2 separate regions of the Homo sapiens genome follow, and region 2 is linked to region 1. Evidence: fine-mapped QTL for protein levels in blood plasma. A gene starts in region 1. The other region holds a variant in brackets. All regions are shown on one strand. Distances are from middle to middle.

What was found. A credible set is the group of variants that fine-mapping cannot tell apart. PIP is the chance, under the fine-mapping model, that this variant and not a neighbour inherited with it causes the effect. Sun 2018 read protein levels with aptamers (SomaScan).
Region 2: its variant is the best candidate, but not a certain one, in a credible set for the plasma level of the MSMB protein (Sun 2018, PIP 0.60).

What each region holds. Positions count from the first base shown.
Region 1 is chr10:46,044,979-46,047,890 of GRCh38, forward strand. It overlaps MSMB (microseminoprotein beta), which reads right to left and starts at 1,291. Exons shown (of 4, transcript NM_002443.4): 1 at 1,257-1,291. The coding sequence starts at 1,259.
Region 2 is chr10:45,595,210-45,598,121 of GRCh38, forward strand. No RefSeq gene overlaps it. Among named protein-coding and RNA genes, the nearest start is that of MARCHF8, 61 kb to the left of the region's middle. The variant C/T (reference allele first, on the strand shown) is at 1,668.

The sequences.
Region 1 (2,912 bases):
CCCCAGTTCTGCCTCCGGACAGTTTCTGAGAGCAAGTTTGTCTTGCCGAGTGGCCCAGAGGAGGCCCGGGGTCCCCTCCTGAGGACCCTCTCCCACCTCCCTTGGCTCCTCCCACTTGGCTGGCTGTTTCTTGCCTCATCTCCCTTGCAGCCCCCAGAGCAGCCCAGTTCAGTCCCCAGCGTTAGTAAAGAATGTTTTAAGAAAGATCAAGTTTAAGACACAAGAAAAGCCTGCATGGGTTTTTATAAATTTTGAAGCAAAATTCTTTCTTGGCCAGGCACAGTGGTTCACACCAGTAATCCCACCACTTTGGGAGGCTGAGGTGGGCAGATTGCATGAGCCCAGGAGTTCAAGACCAGCCTGGGCAGCATAGCAAAATCCTATCTCTAAAACAAATACAAAAATTAGTCGGGCATGGTGGCACTCGCCTGTGGTCCCAGCTACTTGGGAAGCTGAGATGGGAGGATCACCTGAGCCCAGGAAGGTCCAGGCTGCAGTGAATCATGACTGCACCACTGCACTCCAGCCTGGGCAACAGAGTGAGATCCTGTCTCAAAAACAAACAAATAAACCAACAAACACAGCCCCAAACCCAAGATTTTTCCTTAACACATGATACAGTGAAAAGGGCCTAGGGAAATGGTTCCCAAACTTGAGTATTAAAATGACCTGGGCAGCTTTTTAAATTGATGCTCTGTTCTCACTGCAGCCCAATTAAATCAGAGTGTCGGGGTGGAAGATGGGTGTCAGTGTTCTTCAAAATTCCCCCGGAGTTTCCACTGCACAGCCAAGTTTGGGAGCCCCTGGCAGGGAGAGAGGAATGCCTGGGTTCCTATCTCAGCTCATTCACAGGCTTGCGGTGAGACCCCAGTGGCAGCTTCTTCCCCTCCCCAGGCTCAGTTCCCTCATCTCAAAAACGATGCAGTCATGTAGCTCTGAAATTATTTTTAATTTCAAATTACTCACATAGGACCCAAGAATTAGAGACACTTATGAAATCTAATTGAACCCCAGAATTACTGGAAGGAAAAACAACTTAGATCTTAGAGAACAGAACTAGTGCTAAACTCATTACAATTTTCGCAAGCTCTCAGACTCTCATACTCTGCACATTGAATTGCAGGTAATAACATAAGGTTCCTAACTAGGTCACATTTACCATTCAATGCTATGTGGTAGAAGCACACGCATATTAAAATAGGAATACATATTCTCTTTTGCTTTTCTAGCCTTTATATATAAAACCAGTTACCTACCATTGTGATAAGCAGGACTCCTTATAGACAGGTACATCCAGGCAAAGCTGCATCAAACTTTTATACTGGAGAGGGCAACCACGCATTCGACATCATTGGGAATGATAACAAGGTGAGAACACATTGAGTGTTTACAGAGGGTTGACTATCAAAAGGAAAGTATGGTTTCAGATGATTTATGAGTTATTAATCAATCACATCTCCACCCAAGTTATGTGTTTACCTTGTCCCCACCCCGATCTGCATTTGCTGCTGACCTAAAAGAGCAGAGGAGGAGAGAACTTCTCTTTGCTGAGCCTTCGCCCTATGCTGGTGGATTGCTAGCACGTGATGTGTCCTTATTCGATTTTATACACAAAGAAACAGCCTCAGCGATGCCAGTCACAACAGCCAGGTGGTAAAGGTGGGTTTCCTGAAGGCATAAGAATAGCCCACAGGTCAGCCCACCAGGCCCACCGGGCCTGGGTCTGTGGCCCAGATGACCCTGCCCTTAGGGTCTGACATGAGAACAGAAATGGGTCAAGCCATCCTGCAGGGCACAGGAGAGCAAGAACTACATACAGCTCGGGGTTCCCTGACAAGCTGAATTGCTGGACCTTTCTAGAGCCCTTCTTGAATCTGTAGTCTACTCCCTGCTGCATCAAGCAAGCCTTGTTTCTCTTTGTTCCACAGTGGTCTCCTCCCAAACAACCGCACCTGCCCTCATCATGGCTAGGATGGCCTTTGGGGAATGGCAACAAGCAGAACCTCCTAGGGTGCTGGAGGGACTTACTACTTTATCTGTTTGCTCTGCCACCACAACAAAACACTGCAACTGGGTGGCTTTGACTAAAGAAATTTATTTGCTCACAGTTCTGGAGACTAGAAATGTGAGGTCAAGCCATTGGGGAAGGCTTGTTTTCCTCTGAGCCCTCTCTCTTTGGTTTGCAGATGGCCATGCTCTTGCTGCCTCTTACATGGCATGCATCCCTGGCATCTCTCTCTGTGTCCAAATTTCCTCTTCTGATAAGGACACTAGCTGTATTGGATTAGGGTCCACTCTAACTATCTCATTTTACCTAAGCCACCTCTTTAAAGGCCGTGTCTCCATTACAGTCACATTCTGGGATATTGGGGGTTAGGGCTTAAACCAATGAATTTTTAGGGGATGCAATTGAGCTCATAAGACAATTTTATCCCAAAAAGTCCCCTCACTCCTCGCCACAGCTTGCTACAGTTCCTAAAATTTAACCTGAGATCCCTCTGCCCACAGATGAGAGTTCATGCTCCTAACCAGGGGATCCTTGAAGCTCATCTGAGCTGGCCACAGTGGCCCTTTCCAGCACCATCCTCTACCCTCCCTAAAATCAGCCTCACCACCCCTAACACAGCTTGAGGTCACTCTCCTGCTCCTTAGAAGAGCTGTAGTGCTGTCTGGCTGCCTCCTCACTCACCAACGGTGCCACACACTTCTGCCTTTACCTGCATAAGTTAAGTGTTCATCGACTCTAAGTTCCAGGAAATCGGGGCACATTCATCATGCACTGTAGCCCCTTGGATTCTTTTAAAACTCCAAGTTTGAAGAACTTCCCACAGTGTGAAGTGGGAAGTTCTGCCTTACATTGAGAGGAACTAGGATTTGCTGCCCTCACCTGCTTACCTCCAGGGTACAGGCAC
Region 2 (2,912 bases), 450 kb before region 1:
AAATACTTTCTTACCTGAGGCTATCAAACGGGAGGAAAAGCGAAGGAATAAGTAATAACGGTTTTTGCCTTGACAGATTTTTGTTTGCTTTCGCTCCCTAATCTGGACTGAAAGATTCCCACAGCATAGCCTCTCAGCCAGAGAAAGCACGTGAAGGAGGTTTATACGACTTCTTACTTTTAAGTTGTATTTTAATTTTTATGGGGGAATCATCTCTGTGTACATACAGACGTCTAAATATTTGATTCTGCATTCATCTCTTTTTTTTTTTTTTGAGACGGAGTCTCACTCTGTAGCCCAGGCTGGAGTGCAGTGGTACGATCTCGGCTCACTGCAAGCTCCACCTCCTGGGTTCACGCCATTCTCCTGCCTCAGCCTCCCCAGTAGCTGGGACTACAGGCGCCCGCCACCACGCCCGGCTATTTTTTTGTGTTTTTAGTAGAGACGAGGTTTCACCGTGTTAGCCAGGATGGTCTCAATCTCCTGACCTCGTGATCCGCCTGCCTCTGCCTGCCAAAGTGCTGGGAATACAGGCATGAGCCACTGCACCGGGCCAGACTCTGCATTCATCTTTTGTCCACATAAAACTCTCATTATTCCTCTGTCACTTTCATCACTGTCTACCAAATCCAATTTTCCTACATCAAACTTCCCAGAAATAGTTTCAACCACTGCCAGTTTTATTTCTCCCATAATCATGCATAAAAGATGAATAATTTGTATTTCTTAGTAAATTCATGAGTGAATTATAAGCAAATCCTCTCAAATATTCCATAGTTGTTCTGTTGTCCCGGAGTGATCTATCATATAGCTAATCAATTCCTCCCTACAATTCTGACCACTTTGAATTTTTGGCTAAGTAAAAAGCAGATTGTCAGGTTCAAAACAGTGTGCTCAAGATATCCTCTGGATCAGCAAGGTCAAAACATCTCCATTTCTATAACACACTTACAATACAGTATTACAAAGAGCAGAAAAATGATGAATTTTCTCCATTTGTCTTTTACTGTGGAAAATAGGTTATCAAGGCCAGTTGCCACAACCTGGTTGGCTCTACTGCTTCTGGCAGCAGGTGTTCCATGAAGGTAGTACCAATATCTTCCATTGGTATAGCTTATGCCTAGACCAGGCTTGTTGAGCCAAAGGGTTGGCTGACTGATGAATGGATATGGAATCCTGTCATCCTTCTACAGGAAGCGGCAGAACCTTCGTAGTTCAACAGGGATCTGTGAGCTATGCAGGGCTGATAAGCAGCACTCATGGAGACAAAGCTAGGGTGAGTCCTGGCGCAACCATTACTGTCTAGGCAATTTCCTTAACCTTTCCGAGCCTCTCTTCAGCTTTCTGAAAGATATCTACTGAATAGAGTGGTTATGAGACAAAATGAGGTAATGCCTGTATAACACTTTTAAGTGCCCAATACATACAGTGTTGGGTAAATGTTAACCAATATGGTCTTTGGCGACGGGGTATTAGTATAGGAGGTCAGAGTCCTGAGGGAAAGGGAGCTGACAACTTGAACGTGTCCAGGTCCTGGGTCCAGATTCTTGCCACCTGGAGTGTAGTTCAAGAAGGGATTGCCAGCCAGGCGTGGTGGCTCACGTCTGTAATACTAGCACTTTGGGAGGCCGAGGCAGGCAGATCACCTGAGCTCAGGAGTTCAAGAC[C/T]GGCCTGGCCAACGTGGCCTAGCCAACATGAAACCTCCTCTCTACTAAAAATACAAAAATTAGCCAGGCATGGTGGCGGGTATCTGTAATCCCAGCTACTCGGGAGGCTGAGACAGGATAATCACTTGAACCTAGGAGGCAGATGCTGCAGTGAGCCAAGATCATGCCACTGCACTCCAGCCTAGGTGACAGAGTGAGACTCCATCTCCAAAAAAAAAAAAGGGGGGGGCGGATTGCCAGCAAGGAAACAAAGCACAATTGGGAAGAAACTGTTGCACTCAGAATGTAAGGCAGCCAGTAAGGGAATTGCTCATAGGGCACCAGGTGCTCACTCCAAGAGGCATACTGGCCTTGTGGCAACAGCTTAATTCCAAATCCTCCCTGCTTGTGTTAATGGGGACTCCTAATACACTGCCTTTCCTTTGCCTTAGCCCACATAGGGAAATTACCTACCCTCTCCTACAGTTTGTGGGACATGAAGACATAAGAAAGAATTCAGGCTTGAGCCAAGTGATCAGTGTTATCTCCAGAACCAGTCACACTGACTCCCTACCAAATGGTTAAATACATCAACCCATCAACCATGTTCTAGTTTTGTTGTTGTTGTTGTTGTTGTTGTTTGAGACGAGTTTTGCTTGTGTTGCCAAGGCTGGAGAGCAATGATGCGATCTCAGCTCACTGCAACCTCCACCTATCTGGTTCAAGCAATTCTCCCATCTCAGCCTCCTGAGTAGCTGGGATTACAGGCGCCTGCCACCACACCCAGCTAATTTTTGGTATGTTTAGTAGAGACAGGGTTTCACCATGTTGGCCAGGCTGGTCTCGAACTCCTGACCTCAGGTGACCCGCCCGCCTCGGCCTCTCAAAGTGCTGGTGTGCCCGGGGTTGGTTCCTTCTGGTGGGTTCTTGGTCTCACTGACTTCAAGAATGAAGCCACGGACCTCTGCAGTGAGTGTTACAGCTCTTAAAGGTGGCACGGACCCAAAGAGCGAGCAGCAGCAAAATTTATTGTAAAGAGCAAAAGAACAAAGCTTCCACAGTGTGGAAAGGGAGTCGAGCAGGTTGCTTCTGCTGGCTGGGGTGGCCAACTTTTATTCCCTTATTTGTCCCTGCCCACATCCTGATGATTGGTCCATCTTACAGAGCACTGATTGGTCCATTTTACAGAGTGCTTATTGGTGCATTTACAATCCTTTAGCTAGACACAGAAAAGTTCTCCAAGTCTCCACTTGACCCAGGAAGTCC